Linked DNA regions of Homo sapiens. The protein of the gene in region 3 purifies or fractionates together with the protein of the main gene of each other region. This does not show direct contact. Each region holds a gene or a part of one and is shown on either strand. Other genes may lie near its edges. The genes, in order: ZNF268, ABCF2, OTUD3, ARGLU1, SLC7A11, RP2 and GNAT3.

Region 1 (2,838 bases), on a different chromosome or scaffold from region 3:
TCACAAACTTTGAGTGGCACCTGGAAACGAGGTTCTGGGCTGGAACCTGAGTGTGAACCTCACTTGGAGGCTGTGTGATTGCAGGTGAATCATTCAATCACCTGAGCCTGGCCCTCCCCTCTGCACAAGGAACTAGCCATACCTAGCAGATAGCTGTGAGTCACCTGAGCAAGATAGCTGCATGGTGATGGTCAGAAAACACTGATTTCTCCTTATTGAAATGGGACAACCCTTGGATACCACGTGCCGAGCTATGAATTCCAGCAATGCAAGTTTCAAAAGACCCTGTGTGCCCTAAGGAGGCACTGCTGATCACTTAGTGTCTGTGAAGGCATCAGAAGGTGACCTGGACCTGGAATGATGAAACAGCCATGGGTTTAGGAGCTGGCAGATGGTGTGGCTGGAGCACATGTCTGGAATGTGGTTGGCCAGGCCCAGGCAGCACTGGGCTATGGAGGGACTTAAATGTGAGGCTAAGAGGGCTGACCCTGGTGAGGGAATGCTGTGGACTAGATTTTTTTATTGAGGTAAAATTTACACAATATAAAATTAACTTTTAAAAATGTACATTTCTGTGACATTTAGTCCATGCACAACATTGTGCAGCCACCACCTCTTAGTTCCAAAATAGTTTCATCACCCCAAAGGAAATCCTCCATCCATTAAGCAGCTGTCACACATTTCATCCTCCCTCCGACCCTTGACAACCACCAATATGCTCTCTTTGGATTTACCCATTCTGGGTATTTCATATAAGTGGTATCATACAGTATGTGACCTTTTTGTGGCCAGCCTCTTTCTGCACATTGCTTTTATTTTTATCTTTGTAGACATGGAGTCTTGCTATGCTGCCCAGACTGGACTTGAACTCCCAGGCTCAAGCGACCCTCCCACCTCAGCCTCCCGAGTAGCTGGGATTACAGGTGTGTGGCCTTGTGCTGGGTTCTCAGCACAATGTTTCTGAGGTTCCTCCACGTTGTAGCAAGGGTCAGTCATAGCAGCTTTACCATTTTACAGCGGTGTTCACATTTCTCCACTTCTTTGTCAATACTTGTTTCTGGTTTGTTTTTAAAATAATAAGACATTCTGATGGGTATGGAGTGTTATCTCATTGTATTTTTGATTTATATTTCCATGATGGCTAGTGATGTTGAGTATCGTTTCATATGCTATTTGCATATCTTCTTTACAGAAAAGTCTCTTCAAGTCCTCTGCCCATTTTGATATTGGGTTGTCTTTTTGTTGTTGGGTTGTAAGAGTTCTTTATATGTTCTGGATACTAGACCCTTATCAGGTATATTATTTTACAGTGTCTTTTCTCCTATATTCACCTTTTTTTTTTTTGAGACGGAGTCTCGCTCTGTCGCCCAGGCTGGAGTGCAGTGGTGAGATCTGGGCTCACTGGTTCCAGGTTCACGCCATTCTCCTTCCTCAGCCTCCCAAGTAGCTGGGACTACAGGCTTCCACTACCAGCCTGGCTAATTTTTTGTATTTTTTTGTAGAGACAGGGTTTCACCACATTAGCCAGGATGGTTTCGATCTCCTGACCTCGTGATCCACCTGCCTCAGCCTCCCAAAGTGCTAGGATTACAGGCGTGAGCCACCACACCCGGCCTTTTTTTTTTTTTTGAGATGGAATTTTGCTTTCTTGCTCTGTCACCTGGGCTGGAGTGCAGTAGCATGATCTCGGCTCACTGCAACCTCCACCTCACAGCTTCAAGCGATCCTCCTGCCTCAGCTTCCTGAGTTGCTGGGATTACAGGCACATGCCACCACACCCGGCTTTTTTTTTTCTCTTTTTTTTTATTTTTAGTAGAGACGTGGTTTCACCAAGTTAACCAGGCTGGTCTCGCACTCCTGACCTCAAGTGATCCTCCCACCTTGGCCTCCCAAAGTGCTGGAATTACAGGCGTGAGCCACCACACCCAGCTCCTTTTCACTTTCTTGATAGTGTCCACTGATGCCGAAAGTTTTCAATTTTGGTGAAGTCCAATTTACCTATTTTTTCTTTTGTTTCCCATGCTTCTGGTGTCATATCCAATAAATCATTGCCAAATCCAGTGCCAAGAAGTACATGAAAAGATTTTCAACATCACTAGCCATTAGGTAAAGGAAAATCAAAACCACAATGAGATACCATTTCATACATGTTAGAGTGGCTATTATAAAAAATATGGAGGCCAAGTGCAGTGGTTCAAGCCTGTAATCCCAGCACTTTGGGAGGCCAAGGTAAGTGGATCACTTGAGGACAGGAGTTTGAGACTAGCCTGGCCTGGCCAACATGGTGAAACCCTGTCTCTACTAAAAATACAAAAAATAGCCATACATGGTGGCACATGCCTGTAATCCCAGCTACTCAGGAGGCCGAGGAAGGAGAATCACTTAAACCTAGGAGGCGGAGGTTGCAGTGAGCTGAAATGGTGCCACTGCACTCCAGCCTGGGTGACAGAGTGAAACTCCATTTCAAAAAAACCAAAAAACTATTTGGGTGTAGTGGCACCTGTAGTTCCAGCTACCCAGGAGGCTGAGGTGGAAGGATCCCTTGAGCCCAGGAGGTTGGGGCTGCAGTGAGTTATGATCATGCCTATGAAATGAGAGAGAAACAAACTAATTAATATTGGCAAGTATGTGGAGAAATTGGAAGCCTTGTGCACTGCTGGTGGAATGTAAAATGATAGTTGCACAATAATGGAAATAATGTACTTCATGCCACTGAAGTGTACACTTAAAAATAGTTAAAATGGTAAATGTTCTTATTATATATATGTGTATATATATGTGTATATGTGTATATATATGTGTATATATGTGTGTATGTGTGTGTGTATATATACATAT
Region 2 (3,500 bases), on a different chromosome or scaffold from region 3:
CAGCCCTGAAGAGGACACCATTCCATTATAGGATGCACTCACACACCCGCACTCATTCAGACTGGAACCACTGAGACGTTCCAAGTAACCTGACAGGTGCAGCTTTGGAATTGGGAAGAAACTGAAGTACCAGAGAAAACCCATGTAGACGTTAAAGGGAAAGTGCAAACTCCACAAAGACAGTGGCCCCAGCTGGGAATCATTTCTATTTTTCATCAATATTAATGAAATGACATTACTTGAGAACCTGCAGCATCCCTAAATGCACAGATGTTCCTATATTCTAAATGCTCTGATTGAAAATAGAAACATGGGCCAGACGCGGTGGCTCACGCCTGTAATCCCAGCACTTTGGGAGGCCGAGGTGGGCAGATCATGAGGTCAGGAGTTCAAGACCAGCCTAATGAACATGGTGAAACCCCATCTCTACTAAAATACAAAAAAATTAGCTGTGGCGTGTGCCTGTAATCCCAGCTACTTGGGAGGCTGAGGCAGGAGAATTGCTTGAACTCGGGGGATGAAGGTTGCGGTGAGCTGAGATCGCACATTGCACTCCAGCCTGGGCAACAGAGCGAGACTCCACCTCAAAAAAAAAAAAAGAAAATAGAAACGTGCTTAAACACATACATGTATTCACACACACACTCTAAGACTCCTCCCTACCTATCCCTGTCCCAGGAAAACAGCCCCCAGCCTCAGCACTGTCCAACCAGACATTCCCCCTCTCCTGGCTGCTGCTCCACCCCTCCAGATGGCTCACTCACCACCAGGGTACTCAGGCCCTCCCAAAGTAGTAGCCCCTGCATCACTCCCCTCTTCCTTAACCATCGCAAGGCCTAATCTTAGAGGGATCCACGCCCACCTTGGCACCATACCTCTCCAGTTAGCAGCTTCAGAAGAGTTGACTTCCCTGCTCCATTGGGCCCTACCAGAGCCACTCGTGTGTCAAGGTCAATTCCAAATTCTAGATTATTGTAGATGCAAGGCTGAGGTGGGGATGAGAGAGATGTGGACACAAGGCTAGAATACAGATCTGCTATGACCAGCAGACCAAGCCCGCTGAATTCCCAGTCACCAAGAGAGGAGGAAGGGAGAGTAGCGGGAGGAAGCACTCATAGCAGACCCCGCCTCGCCCACTGCCTCCGCCCACCAACCCAGCTGAGTAGTCTTCTTTCCATATACACGAAGAAAGGCCCGCGAGCAGCCTTGGATGAGGCACCCCAGCTGCCACACCTGAAAATCCCCCAGAGCACGTGGGCTAGCAGGTGTGGTCAGCACAGAACAGGAGCAACTCCCATGAGCTGCCACTCACCCTAAGATACACCCCAGCCACCCATGCCCTGCCCTGAACTTACCCCATCTTTTGTATACTTGAAGCTCACATTTTGCACCATAATGACAGGTGGAGGGATCTTGCCACATGGTGGGAAATAAAATGACAGTGTCTAGGAAGAAAAGAGGGCATTTATCAAGTTGGCTCCTTTCTTATCCACCTCACCTTAGGCCACCCAACCCCACCCAATCACACCCCACCCAATCACACCCCACCTTATCGCTCACGACCCTCTCTGTCAGTCCTGATGCCATCATTTTCTGTAGCGTCTTCTCCTTGCTCTGGGCCTGCCGGGCCAGCTTGGCACTGCCATGACCAAACCTCGCAATGTAGTTCTAAAAAAGACCAAAGAGAGCTTGGAGTATGTGCAGGCGCTCAACAATTCATCTTCAATCCAGGGTAAAAATGTTGATCGTAACTTCTTCCCGACATCCTCCATCACTACCGCTTCTCGAAATGCCCTCATCCGAGCCCCCTGCTTCTTTCAGACAGGAGGCCATGAGCCTGACTCTGCAGTCTCCCTACCTTCATGTGTGCAATCTGATCTTGCTCCCAGTGAAACCTCTTCATCTGGTTCTCCTCCAGCTCTAGCCGCGTCTTCACGTACTGATCATAATTACCCTGCATGGAAATGTGCCAGGTAAGGCAGGCAGCTTTAACCTGGGTTTCAATCCTGGATTCTCACTCAGAGTTTAGGGGGATGAGGGATGGCACTAACTTGGCCCTGGCTCTAAGGCTGTGCAGTAAGAAGAGAGGACGTGCATTACAGAAGCATATCCTAACATCAAATCGGAGTCTTTTCAATTCTATGCCCCTCGCTCAGCCCAGCCAGGGCCAGGCTCCAGCGCAAATCCTTAGGTTAGCTAGAAAGACACCTGTGGCACTGGGAATAGTCCTGAAAATCACGGTCATACGGACGTCACGAGGCTCAGAGCCTTCCAATACCACCTCCTATTCCTTCCCCGTTCCCTAGAGGCTGAAGCCCCACAAAAGACTGCAAGAGCTGTCTCCAGAGGGGAAAACAGACCATTCAGATTTAGAAGCTGACAAACCCTGCATAAGTGGACTACCATGGTTTCTATCTGCAAACAAAAACTGGACTCAAGCTAAATATCCACCAGAAAGGGCCTAACAAGTTACAGGATAAACACATAACGAAATACTATGCAGTGACTGAAAAGATTGTGATTGATTTATATATACTCACATGGAAAGCAGTCCAAAATATACTAAATTTAAAAAAGCAACCTACAGAATGATTATTAAAATTGTAACTGTGGCCAGGTGCAGTGGCTCACACCTGTAATTCCAGCACTTTGGGAGGCTGAGGTGGGTGGATCACTTGAGGCCAGGAGTTTGACAGCAGCCTAGCCAACATGGCGAAACCCCGTCTCTACTAAAAATATAAAAATTAGCTGGGTATGGTGGCATGTGCCTGTGGTCTCAGCTACTTGGGAGGGTGAGGTGGGAGGATCGCTTGAACCTGGGAGGCAGAAGTTGCAGTGAGCCAATATCACGCCACTGGACTCCAGCCTGGGTGACAGAGACAGACCCCATCTCGAGAAAAAAGAGGCCGGGTGCGGTGGCTCACGCCTGTAATCCCAGCACTTTGGGAGGCCGAGGCAGGCGGATCATGAGGTCAAGAGAGGGAGACCATCCTGGCCAATATGGTGAACCCCATCTCTACTAAAAATACAAAAATTAGCTGGGTGTGGTGGCATGCGCCTGTAGTCCCAGCTACTCAGGAAGCCGAGGCAGGAGAGTCCCTTGAACCTGGGAGGTGGAGGTTGCAGTGAGCCCAGATCGCGCCACTGCACTCCAGCCTGGCGACGGAGCAAGACTCCAGCTCAAAAAAAAAAAAAAAAAAAAGCTGCAATTGTATAAAAAGAAAAAGATTACGTATACATGACATTTTCTACAAATGTGTGCAAGTATACATGAAGTTTCTGGAAGGCTATATTATAAACTAATACTCCTATGACTATGAATGAAGAGGACATCAATCGTTAGTTTCTTACATGCTTTTTGAAATATAAAATGAAAAGGCAAGGCACAACAGTGGGCTATTGAGATCCTGACCCCCATTCTCCTGTGGTCATGGGAGGTGGGGTAAATGTGTAGACTCCAGTGAAGCAGAATTAAGAAGGCATTCAAGAAGGCAGAGGGA
Region 3 (3,500 bases):
CACAATAATCACTCCCCCCATTATTACTTAACAATATTTTGGAGGTAACAGCCAAAGTATTTAGCCAAAATAAATTTTAAGTATAAAATTAAAAAGAAAAAAGTAATCTGTCTTTGTAGATGATATAATTCTGTAACTGAAACAAGAGAATCAACAAAAAACTACTGCAAACCAAAAAAATTACAGCAAATCATATACCTGGGTAAGAATCTAGCATCTAGAATATATTAAAAAACTCTTACAACTCAAAAAGGCAGAACCCAATTAAAAAATAGGCAAAAGACTTGAATAGACATTTTTCCAAAGATATACAAATGGCCGAAAACCACATGAAAAGATGTTCAATGTCATTAGCTATTAAGAAAATGCAATTCAAAACTTTAAGATACTGGCCGGGCGTGGTGGCTCATGCCTGTAATCCCAGCACTTTGGGAGGCCGAGGTGGGTGGATCACGAGGTCAGGAGATCGAGACCATCCTGGCTAACACGATGAAACCCTGTCTCCACTAAAAACACAAAAATTTAGCTGGGCGTGGCGGTGGGTCCCTGTAGTCCCAGCTACTCGGGAGGCTGAGGCAGAAGAATGGCGTGAACCCGGGAGGCGGAGCTTGCCAGTGAGCCACGATCGTGCCGCTGCACTCCAGCCTGGGCGACAGAGCAAGACTCCGTCTCGAAAAAAAACTTTAAGATACTAACTAGGATGACCATTTAAGAAAAAAACATTTGTCAGAGAGGATGAAGAGAAAGCAGAGCCTTCATACATTACCGGTGGCAAGTAAAACAGTGCAGCTGCTGTGGAAAACCGTTTGGCAGTTCCTCAAAATGTTAAATTTAGGTTTATCATATGACCCAGCAATTCCACTCCGAGGTATATCCAAAAAGACTGAAAATAGGTATTTGTAAAAATACTGTACACATATACTCACAGCAGCACTATTCTCAATAGCCAAAAGGTGGGAACAACCTAAATGCTCATTAACAGATGAATGGGTGCACAAAAAATCATCTCTCCAAACAATGGAATATTATTCAGCCATAAAAAAGAATGAAGTACTGATACATGCTACACCATGAATGACTCTCAAAAACATTATACTGAGGGAAAGAAGCCACAAAGAAAAAGTCACATATAATTCCATTTACATAAAATGTCCAGAATAGGCAAATTCATAGAGAAGAAGGGCAGATTGGTGACTGCTAGGGGAGAGGGGGAATTGGGAGTCACTGCTTAATGGATATGAGGTTTTCTTTTGGGGTGATGAAAATATTTTGGGACTAGACAGAAGAAGTGGTTGTACAACAAACACTGCAGATGTACTGAGTACCACTGGACTATATATTTTTAAATGATTAATTTTATGTTATGTGAATTTTGCCTTAACTTTTAAAAAAAGAGGGGTTCTGTGGGATACCTATGTAATTAACATCTTGTTATTAACAGCTCTCACAGACAAATGATAACCAACTAGAAAACATAAAAGATCTCTTTACAATAGACACAAAAAACACAAAACACCTCCTAAGAATAAACTCAACAAAAAGTGGGCAAGATCTATATGAAGAAAATGTTCCTGTGGATCACAAAGTCAATTAAATAATAAAAGACTCAACATCAAAAAGATGTCAGCTTTTCCTTAAATTACTCTATTAATTTAATGAGATTCCAATTTTAAAAAACTCAATAGGGCCGGGCACGGTGGCTCACGCCTGTAACCCCAGCACTTTGGGAGACCAAGTTAAGCAGATCACTTGAGGTCAGGAGTTCAAGACCAGCCTGGCCAACACGGTGAAACCCCGTCTCTACTAAAAATACAAACATTAGCCAAGGGTAGTGGCGAGCGCCTGTAATCCCAGCTACTCGGGAGGCTGAGGCAGGAGAATCGCTTGAACCCGGGAGGCAGAGGTTGCACCACTGCACTCCAGCCTGGGCAACAGGGCAACAGAGCAAGACTCTGTCTCAAAAAAAAAAAAAAAAAAACAAAAAAAAAAACCTCAATAGGATTTCCTTTGAACTAGACACATTGATTCTAACATTCATTTTGTTTTTTTTAAAAAAGACAACATATAAGGAAACTTATAAAAAGAAAATTAATTATGAGTGAAAAATCCTACCAGATTTTAAAATATACCAACTAAAACAATGAGGCATCAACATGTGAACAGGGAGATCAGTGGACCAGAACCAAATGTCTAGGAATAGACCCAAATACATATGGGAATTTAGTATATGGAAAGAAAGTGGCATTTTAAATCAGTGGAGAAAAGATGTATAATTAATCAATGGTTTGGGTACAACTAGGTAATCACAAGGGAAATATAAAGTTGGATCCATAGCCTCCTACCCTTATTTCAATATAAATTTCAGATGAAGCCAAGATTTAATTTTTTTTTTAAGTCAAACTATGAGCTGGGTGCAGTAGCTTACATCTGTAATCTCAACACTTTGGGTGGTCGAGGCAGGAGGGTTGCTTGAGTCCAGGAGTTCGAGACCAGCCCGGGCAACAAAGTGAGACCCTGTCTCTACAAAAAATAAAAAATTAGCCAGGCATAGTGGTACACAGCTGTGGTCCCAGCTACTCAGGAGGATCGCTTGAGCCTGGGAGGTTGAGGCTGCAGTGAAACATGATCATAGCACTGCACTCCAGCCTGGGCGACAGAGTGAGACCCAGTCTCAAAAAATAAATAAATAAATAAAGTGAAACTATGAAAGTACTATTCTAAACTATGGGAGAATTCTTTTTAACCTCAGAGTGGGAAAGACTTTCCCAGTTATGACCCAAAATCCAAAGGGCATATAAGAAAATCGTAACAAATTTAACTATGTAAAAATCTAAAATTCTTTCATAGCAAAGACCACAGGAGAAAGAACAAAAAGACAAATGACAGAGTGCGAAAAACTATTTGCAACTCATATCACAGACAGAGGCTAATTTCCCTAATACATAAAAAGCTCCCCAAAATCATTAAGACAACTTAATAGGAAAAAAATGGAGAAAGAAAATGAATACCATTTACAAAAAATAGAAATATGTCTTAAACACAGGAAAAGATGCATAAATAAGAGAAATGCAAATTAAAACTAGGTTAAGTAAACAATTTTTCCCCTAACAATGAAAAGGATTTAAAAATTTGGTAACACTATGTTGACGAAGTGCACCGTGCAGGAAAAGAGCCACATATTGCAGGTGGGAGTTTAAACCGGTGAAATCTTGTTAGAACGTAATTTGACAATTCACTTATCAACATCCTCTGATGTGGCAAGGACCTTCTAGGAATGTGTCCCACAGATACATGAGTGAAATGAGGTACATAAAAGGTACTGCACATTGCTTATAATAGCAAAGGGTTAGAAACCACCTAAAAGTCCATCAGTAAGTGACTGGTCAAAAATATTATAATGCATCTACAGAACAGAACACTACGCAGCCTTTAAAAAGGATACAGGAAGTTCCTTATGTACTACCATGAATTAAATCCCAAGACATGTTAAATTTAAAAAG
Region 4 (2,965 bases), on a different chromosome or scaffold from region 3:
TCTCCTGGAGGGGGAGGAGAGCCTCAAAAATTAGGATAGCCTGTCTTCAGTATTTCTCATGGCCATTAATACAAAACAGATGAATGGTTTTGCGTGTAAAGATGCAGAAAATTTAGACAACTGAAAAGAGACGCTCTAATGGATAGAAATAGCTTTGGAGAAATGTCAGTGAAGTGACAGGCTCCTCATAAAATGAGGCATTAGAAATGATACATAGAGTTCAACAAGTCAGGATTCTACGCTTACTATACTTAGAAAATTGAAAAAATACAAACCACTGAAAATTCTTAAGATACTGCTAAATCCAGGACAGGTGGTGATACAAAAAAAAAAAAAAAAAAGCTATGGACACATACTAGCACAGTAAATGAATACGGAGATTACTTAGGGTAGAAATAGTCTGATTTGCTGCATCTTCATAAGGGAAACTGAAGTAGGTAAAATCTCATACTACAAACCCCTTCCCCAATTTAAAGCATTAAAGAGTCCTCACACCAAGCTAATTTAAAGGTTTAGTTTATACAATTGATAATTCTGCAAACCACAATATGTCAATAACTACATACTGTAATAAAAATAAACAAAGTCATACTTAATTCTATAATGCATTAAGAATAACCTAAAAAAACAAATTGTGAATAAAGGCATATTTAATAAATTAGGGAACATCTTAACTTCTAATAGACTGGGGGAAATTTTTAAGTTTTCTATGTACACAAAGGCAGTGGGAACAAATGAAAAAAACAAATTACTACATTGTTGCAGCACATTAAAGACTGGATGGTGTATATTATTCACAATTACATCCTCTTTCCCATAGCCTGGCAGAGGAAAGTAGTTACCAAGCACAGGAACAATTTCAACATCTCACTGGAGTCTCCAAAAGCAAGCAGATACTGCAGGATGTCATTAAGCAACTTACTGTCACTTCACACCATATGTGGCAGTAAGAAACTTAAAAAAAAAATTAAAAGGCACGCATAAGCTGATTTCAAATATTTTAAGTCCAGGCTACTCTCTTTAGATACAATGTTTTGAACACTTGTATAGAACAGTTTTTAAATAAACATTTCCAAAAACTTGAATACAGAACTTAGGAACCATGAATCTTCACCAAAAAAAGTTACATTGAAAAAAAAAAAAATTCATGAAATAATTACAGCTAACCTATATTTAGAGATAAAATATTTTTTGGCAACCTATATTCTTTAGGAAAATAAAATGTTTGATTTTAGAGTAAGTAGTATGTTTACTAAAAGTTCTCACTATATTTCATGCCTATTTAAAATTCTACCTTTAAAGATCTTTAAACTGATTTTATATTGTTCCTTACCACAATTAGACTCATTGAAGAGCTCAAAACTAAAGCAACAGCATTTTTCCTAGCATGCACACACAAAATAATCTACCATTTAGTCATCTCTTTAGCTTATGTTTTCAATTTTTAAGAATAATCAAACTGTCTAAAAAATATTGGGCAAAAATAAAAATATTTTCTCTACTTGATGACATGTTTATGCATCTCAGGTAGCATTTTAGATCAATATCCTTTTCTTGAATGTTTTAATACCAGTATACTTAAACATATGTTAAGAGTAAATGAGGCAGATTCTAGTGTATAAAATGAAAGCCATTCATAAGATTTCACATGCAAAAAAAAAAAAAAAATTCATAAAGTTCAAATGTGTTTGTCCTAAAAATAAACGTGCAAGTACACTACACAATGAAAATGACTCGACCATCTTAGCCTTTTTTTGACAGTATAAAGCTAAGTTCTTTCTGATGGCCCACTCTGAAAACGATCTCAGATTCCATAATTTAAAAGCATTTTTCTAGCCTTTATTAAGTATACTTTGTGATAATACTTATATCCTAAAACAGAGGCACAGGTTTGAGAATTTAAATCTTCTGGATGTTGTTAGTCTTTCTTAAAGGTAACACTGATGCCATTTGCTCTATCAGCATAAAGTTGATATTTGTAAAAATAGCCATTAAATACTAATTCACAAGTATATTTAATGTACATATAAACCCTATGTTAAAAGTATAAACAAGAGGAAATATAGTTCTAAGACTTCTAAATGGTTGACCATCAAAAAGTGAACCACCCTCTTTAAGACTTAACATAACATTAAAAAAAATTGCTTCAACATATGAATTTAAGACTTTACTTTATTCAGCAAAATCATTTATTTACACAATGGGGAATGCTGGTTTGATTTTGTCAATGAAATAAAAACAAAATGAACAGAGACAATACTGAACTGTATATATACTTTGTATCAGAGTTGACCAACTGTTTCCTTACCTGTATCAGGAACATCAAGAGCAACAGTATCACAAGGACACTGGTTTAACAATACACCACATAGGTCCAGTAATACCCTGGGAATTTCCCAATGCAATCACCAACTTTTTCTTTTTTTATAAATATATAAAAAAACAAAAAGTCAGCAAAACCAGCATTATGATGTAGCAAACAGAGTATAACTCTGAAGTCAGTGGGGTCAGTAAAAGCCTTATCAGACCATCCATAGTTTTACAATGTGATCTGCTCTTCCTCAGACCACTAATATAGAATCCAAACAGGTGAAAAATACGTCACTCCTTAGAATACAACAATGATCTGATAAGGATTTGACTTAGTGGAAGGAAAAAAAAAAAAAAAAAGGGAATTGCAGAGCATAGCCCCTATTAGAACAAGCTAACTTTCCAGATTTTACAAATTAAAAAAACAAAAACAAAAACAAAAAACCACTTCAACATGAAGCTACCATACAAAGTTTTTCCATTTTTCTTTGTAAAAAGTTCAGAGTTTGCAATTTAATCCTGGGTTTTTAATGAGAAGGACAGTTTTGGCCTGGACTTCCCCTTGCCCAGGATAATTTTTTGTTCTTCTTTTTGTTGACGTTGTCGTTCTTGTTCTAGTTTCATCCTTTCCTCATGAATCTTTCTTTGTTCTTCA
Region 5 (4,021 bases), on a different chromosome or scaffold from region 3:
AGTGACAAATGCAATGCAAATAAAGATAAGTAGATTAATACAAGAGCACACTCCCTGCAATTACTAATCAAAGAATACCAACTCAAGTGTAATGTTAGCTAGTCTCCTTAGCTGTTTCTCTCTTTTTATTTTTTTTTGAGCTTTTGCTTCAGATGATATGTAATACTTATGCATAAGCATATTTTCATAGTGCAAGTCAACACACTTTAACTAGTTCAATACTCATACTGATCTATTTTATTACATCTGAATAATCTTTTATTATGTGCAAAAATTGAATCACATAGTGGAAGCTGCATGCACATAAGTACGCAAAGTCCAGTAAACTGGTTGTGGTTTTTCTGATTAGATATTGATTTATTCTGAATATATAAAGTGCTGTAGGAAGATTTAAAGGCTGAGGGTGCACAAAATCATTTAAGATGATCAACAATTAGGTTTCTCTTTTTCTATAAGTGCATATACCAGAGCTATTTTAATATTAATAGTGGCTAAGGGTACTATTAGAGTTTTTCATAATGATATTACTCCAAATTATTTTATAAAGATGGGAAGTAATACTGGGAAATAATGATACACAATTGTTACTGAATATTTAATAAAGCACAAGTTAGTTATAAATAATACCACAAACTCTCTCTAAAAACCCCAAATAATTCCTCTATAAATCTTTCTATACTACTTGTTTTAACAAGTTCTATTTAAAATAACTTCTTCCTAAAAATGGAATTTGAGGACCGGGCGCGGTGGCTCATATCTGTAATCCCAGCACTTTGGGAGACTGAGGTGGGTGGATCACGAGGTCAGGAGATCGAGACCATCCTGGCTAACATGGTGAAACCCCATCTCTACTAAAAAATACGAAAAATAAGCCCAACGTGGTGGCACACACCTGTAGTCCCAGCTACTCGGGAGGCTTAGGCAGGAGAATTGCTTGAACTTGGGAGGCGGAGGTTGCAGTGAGCCGAGATCACACCACTGCACTCCAGCCTGGGCAAAGAGCGAGTCTCTGTCTCAAAAAAAAAAAAAAAATGGAATTTGAGTTCTCTAGATGAGTGTCAAACCAATGATTTAAAACATCACAAGGCCTGAGTAGAAAGAATGAATTGATTGGTACACATGGGAACAGGAGTTAGTACTTGTTAATTAGTCCTAGAGTTAGCGTTAGTACTTGTTAGTTAGTGTTAGTCCCAGAGTTAAGACAAAGAGCAACTTTAAAGTACAGAATCTTTCCCAAGAAGAGTAAATAAATCCTCATAGCATAAATCAAATTTAATGTTTGACAGTTCACCAGTTTTTATCATCTTTACAACAAACTCAGGTAGCTCTCTAGTAATTTGCCTACTCCATAAGGGGGCATTTATTTACCTCTTTACTATTAATTCTCAGATCAATAGAAGAGACATAAACTTTGAAGAAAAATTCATAATTATACTTCTGCCAGTTCCCTTCAGATTAATTTAGTGAACAGGTGGACAAATTCTCTGTGTCCCTGGAGAACAAGTGAAATATAATGAAAAAAACAGATCTGGGCAAGTACAGAAAACTAACGCCCAACTGAAGTTTTAAAACTTATATTGCAAAAGTGTATGGGTATTGAGAAGAGATGAAAGGTTGAAAAGTAATTTGAAATATGCTCAGGCCATTGCAATATACCCCATTATGATAGGGATTGAGTTATGCGCCATCATACATCTCTCCCATGTCAAGGACTTTTGAAAGGATATTAAGAGGTGACAAGCACATGAACTTAAAAAATATTTTTATAAAGACTGCCACCCATTTGTTTGGCTAATAAAAAGTCAGTAAGACTTCTGCTGAACACTCCGTTCTATGTCTAAATAGCCCATGCCAGGTTCCACTTCACAGGTGTCTCATTCAGCATGCCAGCTGCCAGAATGCCCAAGCTAAGTGTACAACTGCCCGGCACAGAAAGTGTGCATGTTTTTTACTGGGTCATGAAAGTTAGCCTTTGCTCTCATCACCACAGAGAAAAGTCAGAAGATAGCCTGTCTTAGTCAGGAAAAGAAAGTACAGCCTGTAGGAAGCAATTTGAGGGTGTTCCAGATCACACCAACAGCGGATGCTGCATCTGGGTAGTTCACGTACCCGAACAAAAATTTTAAAAATTTGGTGTGGCCTTTGCCATCCATTCACTCCTCAAAAACTACCATTTGCTTTCCCAGAAAGCAAGCTTTCCAGCCCCACAGCCACGCCCCCACGAGAGAAAAAGTCGCACTCACCAAATAGTGACAGGACCCCACACACCGTCCAGATGGTCAGAGACATGCCCACGCTGCCCGTGTTCTGGAGCACGCCCTTAGGAGAGATGAAGATTCCTGCTCCAATGATGGTGCCAATGATAATGGAGACTCCCCTCAGTAAAGTGACTTTCCTCTTCAGCTGCACTTTCTCCTGCCCAGGTGGCTCCTTGTTGCCCAGGGAAGGCAGCCTCCCGTTAACATTTCCCTGCAGGTAACCTCCTTTGGAGATGGTGGACACAACAGGCTTTCTGACCATAGTAGGGACACACGGGGGAAAAATAAAACAGAGGGAAAGAAAACAAAACTTTCAACTTTGGTGTCTCTTGGTGTTACTGATCGATGTCTTCCTCTGCTTTCAGACTGTCTCTCTCAGCGCTATAGTGTTCACAGGTGAAAACTCAAAGGTGTGCTTTTTCCTTCACAGCGATCTAATTACTACTCAGAAACACCTGTGTATGCATCGTGCTCTCAATTCTCCACCTCCTCGTTCCACCACTGCTGCTGCTGCTGCTGCTGCCGCCCTATCATTACAAACCAGCTCAGCTTCCTCATGGGCTTGTATTTAAGCGCCTGCCTGTCACACCAACTTACTACAGCTAAATGATGATGCAAATTCTCCAGGTTTGCATCAGCCACATGAGAAGCCTCCAGCATTACTCAGCTCTTTTTTTTAAAAAAAGAAAAAAACAGGAGGAGCTTGTTGCTCAACTGACCTAAGCTTTTTAGAGAACAAAGCACACACTTTAAAGAGATTTTAGCCAATCCAGAAGTAGTAAATTCGGAACAGACCTTCCCAGAGATTTAAAGCAACTCGTAGTGAGCAACAAAAGCTGTTCAAACAAAATGAAACAGGAAATAGTTACTTCATTTTAAGGAGTTTCTTTTTCTTTAATGCGTGTATAAAAACATTTTACATGCGACTGTTTTGTGAGTAGAATGTATCCTAAAGCTACATTGTTTATAACAACACAGTTTGAATTTCATAATTTGTGTAATGCTTTTTATTTTTTTATTTTGAGTTTTTTATAAGGCAATACAGTCAAATCCAATATTTACAAAATTAAAGATTCTACACTTTATACTTCTGTCACATACACACAACTATAAGCCTTCCTCAACATTAAAAGATAAAATTATTTCTTACTACTCATAATAAACCAGTATTTTAAATCACCATCCGAGTGTGACTAATACAAAATTCACCATGACTCCAGAAAATAGTCATTTTCTGATTCTCATTAGCACTAGGTGATTTTTTTGAACTATGTAAAAGATACATATCCTTCATTGTCATGTTGTTCCTTTGAATTACCAAAAAAAATTTCTAAGTTCAAAATTACACAATTACAATTACATAAAAATATGTATATAGCAAAAGCCTGTAAAGGAAAACAGAATGGTAGTTATAGAAAGTAATGATATTATGTATGACTTTTTTCCACATTATATAAACTATTGTTATTATTATAAATTTAAAATGCATTAAAAATGTAAGCTAAATTAAAATATTTACTTTGCAATAGTCAAAAAGGCAAAACATTTTTAAACCCTTCTAACTTTCTCAACCAAGTGTCAAGAAAAAACAAATATGAAAAGAAAAGAAATCCTAGATATCATTTTTGGCTATAGTTACATGTGGTTTTGGATTCAGTGAGAAGAATTGAATGTTATCATTACCCTGAAGCTACCTTTATACGCACCATTAAATAAGCTTCTGAACCTTTGAACAAAAACCACAAACAAAAAGCCTGTGTGCG
Region 6 (3,500 bases), on a different chromosome or scaffold from region 3:
CATTCTGATAGCATGTGTAACACCAAACTACTTTCAGTTTTCCTCCTACTCCCTGAAGAATTTTACTTTGTTCCGTCTGTTACTTTTGCCTGGCATGGGAAGGGAGGGTCCTTTATTCCTACCCCTTTTACCTAATGAGCTCTAGCTTATCCATTCTCATGTTTTGCAGAACTTCCGCCCCACTTCTCTTCCCCGCCCCAGATGTCCCTTCTCTGTCCCCTCCAAAATATTCTCAGCATCTCTCATTACATGGTCAAGTTGTTTTTAGTTTAGATGAATGTTTACTTTTATGGAAAGAGCTGGTCCTATTCATTTTAGTGCCTAAAACAATGTCTGGCTCATACTGGGTATTCAAATATTGGTAGAGTGACTGAACATCCAGAAAGTTAAGGGGATTTTTTCAAGATCCGGTTGCTTATAGGGGACAAAATTGGGACTGGAAAATGAGTACTTCTTTTATTGCCTCATACTGCAGACCAGTGTTCCTCCTAGTACAGCATGTAAAACTGGCTAAGTACAATATCTATTGTGCAATTACTAAGTCAATTTAAGCTCATTTGCTAATCATTAAGATGATTAAATTTTGCTTTGTAAATCAAATTTTTACATATTGTATATATGGGAGCCTATGGTGCATGAATGGTTTTGCATGAAGTTTATATAGTCACAAACAGTTAAAACAGTTGAAGTAGATAAGAAAGTCACATGGAAGAAACAAAAATAGGCTTTTAGTGACCATATTTTGATAGGTCAGGTAAAATAAAAAAAATTAATGTGACATTTTCCAGGCATACTGTTTAAAAGATTATGTGGGCCGGGCTCGGTGGCTCACACCTGTAATCCCAGCACTTTGGGAGGCCAAGGCAGGCAGATCATCCAAGGTCAGGAGTTTAAGACCAGCCCGGCTAACATGGTGAAACCCCATCTCTACTAAAAATACAACATTAGCTGGGCATGGTTGCACACGCCTGTAATCCCAGCTACTCAGGAGGCTGAGGCAGGAGAATCACTTGAACCCGGGAGGTGGAGGTTGCAGTGAGCCAAGATTGCGCCATTGCACTCCAGCCTGGGTGACAAGAGTGAAACTCCATCTCAAAAAAAGAAAAAGGCCGGGCACGGTGGCTCACGCCTGTAATCCCAGCACTTTGGGAGGCCGAGGCAGGTGGATCACAAAGCCAGGAGATCGAGACCATCCTGGCTAACATGGTGAAACCCCATCTGTACTAAAAATACAAAAACAGGGGCCAGGCGTGGTGGCTCACGCCTGTAATCCCAGCATTTTGGGAGGCTGAGGCGGGCAGATCACGAGGTCAGGAGATCAAGACCATCCTGGGTAACACAGTGAAACCCCATCTCTACTAAAAAATACAAAAAATTAGCCAGGCATGGTGGCGGGTGCCTGTAGTCCCAGCAACTCGGGAGGCTGAGACAGGAGAGAGCCGAGTTCATGCCACTGCACTCCAGCCTGGGCAACAGGGCGAGACTCCATCTCAGAAAAAAAAATACAAAAACAAAATTAGCCGGGTGTGGTGGCAGGCACCTGTGGTCCCAGCTACTTGGGAGGCTGAGGCGGAGAATGGCCTGAACCCAGGAGGTGGAGCTTGCAGTGAGCTGAGATTGCGCCATTGCATTCCAGCCTGGGCGACAGAGCGAGACTCCGTCTCGAAAGAGAGAGAGAGAAAGGAGGGAGGGAAGGAAGGGAAGGAAGAGAGGAAGGGAGGGAGGGAGGAAGGAAGGAAGGAAGTAGCGAAGGAAGAAAGGAGCGAAAGAAGGAGTGAAGGAAGGAGCGAGCTATAGTTTGGAAGATCTAAGAATAGAAATGGCCAAATTTGAAAAATTGCGTTGTAGCTTAATAAATGCTTGAATCAAATTTGCTTGCATTTACATATTGTGATTCTTGTGCCTTCAGGTTCTTCTGTTTTCTGTAGCATATTGCAGAAATCAGTTGGGGTTTAGAAACTGAGACCATACATTGATTTGAAAAAGGATAGAGAAATATATTTCAGTCTGGGTACATTCCCAATTTCAGAATTTTATTTTATTATTATTATTATTTTTGGGACAGAGTCTCACTGTGTCCCCCAGGCTGGAGTGCAGTGGTGCGATCTCGGCTCACTGCAACCTCCACCTCCGAGGCTCAAGCTATTCTTGTGCCTCAGCCTCCCGAGTAGCTGGGATTACAGACATGCGCCACCACGCCTGGGTAATTTTTGTATTTTTAATAGAGACGGGGTTTCGCCATGTTGGCCAGGCTGGTCTCGAACTCCTGGTCTCATCTGATCCTCCCACCTCGGCCTCCCAAAGTGCTGGGATTAAAAGCAAGAGCCACTGCACCCAGCCTCAGATTTTTTTAGAAATTAGAAGTTTTAAAAATGAAGCATCAAAAAAGAAAAAGTATCAGAAAGCTGAAATAGCAAGGTCATGGTTAAGATCATTAGATACATAGGATATGAGTTGAATTTTTCATAGCGCTTTTATTAAAACAATCATTTAAAAATATATTTTTGACCCTGGTACTCTACAAAGCTTAGTACATTTTTTACTTTTATAAATTCCAAATAGGCTAAAAGCCTACTGACAATATTGACAGTAGCAATGATGATGTAGGTGTCACTTGGGTTAAGTCATGGGAAAACTCAAACCATAGTGTCACAGAGGCTACCCTTTAGCTTTGCATGCCCAGAACACAATTTAATAGCAAAGAGAGGGGATCTGTCTTCTGGGAGGTGTGTATGTTGACTAAGATCATAGGTTTTATATTATTATTGAGAGAAACAATTTGTCCTGTTCATTTTGTTACTGTGTTTCAAAGTCATTGAGATTAAGAATTTATATTTCAGCACTAAGAACTGTGCCTGGCAGCCAATAGTCCTTTAGTTGATACTTGTTGAATAATGTTAATAATACTCAAGGTCTGTGTTTTGTTCCTGCAGGTTGATCCAAAAGACTACATGTTCAGTGGACTGAAGGATGAAACAGTAGGTCGCTTACCTGGGACGGTAGCAGGACAACAGTTTCTCATTCAAGACTGTGAGAACTGTAACATCTATATTTTTGATCACTCTGCTACAGTTACCATTGATGACTGTACTAACTGCATAATTTTTCTGGGACCCGTGAAAGGCAGCGTGTTTTTCCGGAATTGCAGAGATTGCAAGTGCACATTAGCCTGCCAACAATTTCGTGTGCGAGATTGTAGAAAGCTGGAAGTCTTTTTGTGTTGTGCCACTCAACCCATCATTGAGTCTTCCTCAAATATCAAATTTGGATGTTTTCAATGGTACTATCCTGAATTAGCTTTCCAGTTCAAAGATGCAGGGCTAAGTATCTTCAACAATACATGGAGTAACATTCATGACTTTACACCTGTGTCAGGAGAACTCAACTGGAGCCTTCTTCCAGAAGATGCTGTGGTTCAGGACTATGTTCCTATACCTACTACCGAAGAGCTCAAAGCTGTTCGTGTTTCCACAGAAGCCAATAGAAGCATTGTTCCAATA
Region 7 (3,500 bases), on a different chromosome or scaffold from region 3:
TTTTTAAAAAAAAACTTATCAAGTAATCATTTCCCTGTTGCCACACAGACCTTGTAATCATCGTCAAACATTAATTATAATTGTTATGTTATTAAACATTTTTTAGTCTCTTTGAAATGGCATAACTAAAAAAATTAATGTAGAGATATTGCAAATTGTGTTTATGCCATAAATTCTTTTGTATTTAGCAATCACAAGCAATATTTTTATTTGTTATGGTGTATTATTTGATATTAAGTTTAATCCTCAGGAAAACAACTAATGTTGAATAATATTACAGTATATAGTAAAAAAGTTTCACTTCAAGGAAAATAAGAAATCTTACACAAAACAGAATTAATGTTTCAAAATTCATGTTTCATATTTTTAAATTTTGGATATAGATTAATACTATGAACTTATTAAGTCCTCTTATTTTATGGCTCAAACTCTATTGCAGGACATACAGCTGTCATTATTTGCATACTTACTGCACTTCTGGGATTTACATAATCAATTCCAAGGGTAGTCATGGCTTTCACAATAGCTAGGATGGATTGCAATGTATTACTGTAAATTACTGCTTTGAACTCCATGCATTCTTGCTCACTGTAACCATTCTTATGGATGATCCTATAATTTAAACATGAAAAGTTTCTGTGAGTTGAATAATTGATTGTAACACTAAAGCACATCCAACTAAGTTGCTTGAATAAAATTACAGTATATATTCATTAAAAAGGAATTTTGACCATACATATATGCTAACTCTAAACAATTTTATGCCTTTGGACTTTTATTATCATTGTCATTTATACAGTATTTTCTTTCTGGGCTACCCATGATAAATATGAAAAGACTTAGGATTTGTTATTTAAAAATACTTTTTTAAAATGGGTAAATCATAAGCATTATACTTAGAAAGTCTATTTTTTTAAGAGAAAAATTTCTAGATTCCCAGGACAAAGATATATACAGAGTTTGAAACTTGACCTTGTGTTTACAACCTGATGTCTAGAGGAAGCGAAGTCATTTAGAACATTCATGACTTTTCCTATCATGCTGAAAAATAGGAGTGCCTGCTTTCTATTTACAGCATTAACAAAGGCATCTTTTTTAGTACACGTAATTGCCCTGTTAAATTTCTTGTCAGTTCTCCATCTGTGTACGTGCCACTGAGTTATAAAAGTTGAAATGCCTGACATTTTATTTGGCTGAACTCTTCTCTACCTTCCACTCATTCAGCCAAACTCAAGATTTTACTAGTAGTTTTCGAATAATAGCTTAAAATAGATTTACCTATCAAAAGCTAAAATCGTTAGATATGCCAGTTACGTATTTTTGCATCTTTATTGTATAATTTTTTTTGTTCCTTTCTATTTTCTCTTATTGTCTTGAAGTCCTTTGTATTCATTAGGCATCTTTTTGGATGTCATATTACTAAAGATTTATATTGTGTCTACACGTATAAAGGCTTTAGCATGGGGGGAAAAGAGCATAAACACCTCTTTAATGTCTTTGAAGATATTAGAAGCTTCCTATACAAGAAATCTGAACTGAAAGGAGTAAAGGCACAGCCTATATTTGTTATTTGTTGTTTTTTATATTTGATTACAAATCATTGCTGAACTTCTACTTTAAACATGGTCATGTTTGTCTTGCTGCATTAAACCATTAAATAACTTACATAAGTAAATAAAATAGACAAAGGCTGTAGAAAAAAATGCAGTAAAATGTCTTTATGGATAGATCAAGAATAAGTTTATTAAAGAAATCCCAGTTTTCTGTCAAATTGAACTTGGAAAATTATTATTAAAATGGCAACTGTGAATAAACATGAGGCACTTAGGTTATCTTCATGAAACAAGTTCTGATTACTATGAGAAGATGAAGAAACATTTATCACAAAGAAAAATGATAAAAACAGAAGTTAAAATGTCCAGTTGAAGTGGGACTTTAAACAACATCGTTTTTCCAGGAGATGCATATATAAATTTCAGTGAGATAGAGCACTCCAACTGCAAAGTTGGTTCTGAGGTCTGTTGAAATTAATAAGCTTTTACTGTGCATTTTCTGTGACATACTGTGTTATGTGTTAAAGAAATACATTATACAAGTCTCTCCTTCCCAAAACCATAGACTAGAGCTCCTCTGTATAATACATTAGTCACTAGATGATTAATTAAAATTAAGTAAAATTAAAAATTTAGTTTCTCAATCACACTATCAACATTTCAAGTGGCTACTAAAGCCACATGTGGCTAGCAGCTGCCATATTTCAAGGCAAAATAGAGAACTTTCCTATCATCCCACAAAGTTCTGTTGAAGAGGACTGAGTTATAAGAAGGCAGAGCATATAAAGAGATTTTTAAACATTATGATAATGCATAGGAACAAACTCTGCATATAGTAAGATGCTATAGAAAAGAAAAAGTGATAAACTCTACTAGGTGTAAGGTATCAAAGAAGACATCCCGGAAGCAGTGATAATCAGCTGATTGTTCAAGGATAGTTATTCCTAGATGGTCAAAAGGAGAGAGAATCATTGTAGGAAGAAAGATCAGTATGAGCAAATAGATGCTCACAATTTTCAAGTGTTCAATATGTGCCAAGCACTATTGTAAGCACTTCATCTGTCTTATTTCTTACAATAAGCCCTTTAAAGTAGATACAATTATGATCTACATTTTATAAGTAAGAAATGTCAGCATAGATAAATTAAGCAAATACCCCCAACTTATTCAGTTAGTTTGTGATACACCTGGGCCACAAACACAATCTGATGTACAGTCCATGATCTTAGCCATGATGCTCAGCCTTCTATAGTGTGTTAGTCTACAGACTTATAAAAGGTCAGCATTAGTGAAGCAGGAAGTAGGGGAGAAATTACAGGACAGGAGGATGAAGACATCGGCAAGAACTGGGCTCCAGTGTCTTGTGTGCCATGGCAAGGAGATTGATCTTGACAGCAAGGGTGAAGAGTTGAATTCAGGAGATAAAATCAGCTTTAAATGGATCAGTTCATGGCAGTGTGGATAATGCAATGAAGGGAAGAGAAGGGAGGTAGAAGCTCCTTAGGAAGATACTGAATTAATCTAGGTCAGAAATGATGACCAATGGAGATCAATGACATGTTTGGAGACAAATTGTGTAGATGTGGCATGACTTGGTAAAAGGGTGAAGGCTTAGCATAACTATGCTGAGATTTATTGCGTTGTAGGCTGGCGTTGTTGTAATTAATTTTAGGGCGATAGAGGCCAGATGGGAGATAAGTTTAATGTTTATTCTGATTTGGACCTAGCCAGAGAATATAGCAGTAGATGTATCTGCCTCTCTAGTTTAGACAAAGTGTGTGAGTTTGAAAGAAATATTCTGAAACAGTCAGCTTGAAGATTCTGGTGAAAATCATAGAACTCTAGCAGTTTTCATTTTGATGAAGGTGCAGAGTAAGTAGAGAAGTGCCAGCATCTCCTGGTACAGTAGAGACACTAACATTTTAAATGTAGTCAGAGATAGAGTTA

What was found.
Region 1: the proteins of OTUD3 (region 3) and ZNF268 purify together in Homo sapiens (affinity purification with mass spectrometry; one large-scale study listed by BioGRID and IntAct). This does not show direct contact.
Region 2: the proteins of OTUD3 (region 3) and ABCF2 purify together in Homo sapiens (affinity purification with mass spectrometry, with the first as the bait; one large-scale study listed by BioGRID). This does not show direct contact.
Region 4: the proteins of OTUD3 (region 3) and ARGLU1 purify together in Homo sapiens (affinity purification with mass spectrometry, with the first as the bait; one large-scale study listed by BioGRID). This does not show direct contact.
Region 5: the proteins of OTUD3 (region 3) and SLC7A11 purify together in Homo sapiens (affinity purification with western blotting; one study listed by BioGRID). This does not show direct contact.
Region 6: the proteins of OTUD3 (region 3) and RP2 purify together in Homo sapiens (affinity purification with mass spectrometry; one large-scale study listed by BioGRID and IntAct). This does not show direct contact.
Region 7: the proteins of OTUD3 (region 3) and GNAT3 purify together in Homo sapiens (affinity purification with mass spectrometry; one large-scale study listed by BioGRID and IntAct). This does not show direct contact.

The regions. Positions count from the first base shown.
Region 1 is NC_000012.12:133,212,495-133,215,332, reverse strand, and holds the end of ZNF268 (zinc finger protein 268), read right to left. Parts: 3' UTR 501-2,838; downstream 1-500.
Region 2 is NC_000007.14:151,217,206-151,220,705, forward strand, and holds part of ABCF2 (ATP-binding cassette sub-family F member 2), read right to left. Parts: intron 1,955-3,500; coding exon 1,859-1,954; intron 1,669-1,858; coding exon 1,549-1,668; intron 1,446-1,548; coding exon 1,356-1,445; intron 987-1,355; coding exon 876-986; intron 1-875. Other genes in the region: ABCF2-H2BK1 (ABCF2-H2B protein), read right to left, coding at 876-986, 1,356-1,445, 1,549-1,668, 1,859-1,954.
Region 3 is NC_000001.11:19,899,395-19,902,894, reverse strand, and holds part of OTUD3 (OTU domain-containing protein 3), read right to left. Parts: intron 1-3,500.
Region 4 is NC_000013.11:106,541,173-106,544,137, forward strand, and holds the end of ARGLU1 (arginine and glutamate-rich protein 1), read right to left. Parts: coding exon 2,824-2,965; 3' UTR 501-2,823; downstream 1-500. UniProt on the Homo sapiens protein: Dual function regulator of gene expression; regulator of transcription and modulator of alternative splicing. General coactivator of nuclear receptor-induced gene expression, including genes activated by the glucocorticoid receptor NR3C1.
Region 5 is NC_000004.12:138,239,550-138,243,570, forward strand, and holds the start of SLC7A11 (cystine/glutamate transporter), read right to left. Parts: upstream 2,801-4,021; 5' UTR 2,521-2,800; coding exon 2,244-2,520; intron 1-2,243. UniProt on the Homo sapiens protein: Heterodimer with SLC3A2, that functions as an antiporter by mediating the exchange of extracellular anionic L-cystine and intracellular L-glutamate across the cellular plasma membrane.
Region 6 is NC_000023.11:46,850,543-46,854,042, forward strand, and holds part of RP2 (protein XRP2), read left to right. Parts: intron 1-2,933; coding exon 2,934-3,500. UniProt on the Homo sapiens protein: Acts as a GTPase-activating protein (GAP) involved in trafficking between the Golgi and the ciliary membrane.
Region 7 is NC_000007.14:80,488,065-80,491,564, forward strand, and holds part of GNAT3 (guanine nucleotide-binding protein G(t) subunit alpha-3), read right to left. Parts: intron 613-3,500; coding exon 471-612; intron 1-470. UniProt on the Homo sapiens protein: Guanine nucleotide-binding protein (G protein) alpha subunit playing a prominent role in bitter and sweet taste transduction as well as in umami (monosodium glutamate, monopotassium glutamate, and inosine monophosphate) taste transduction.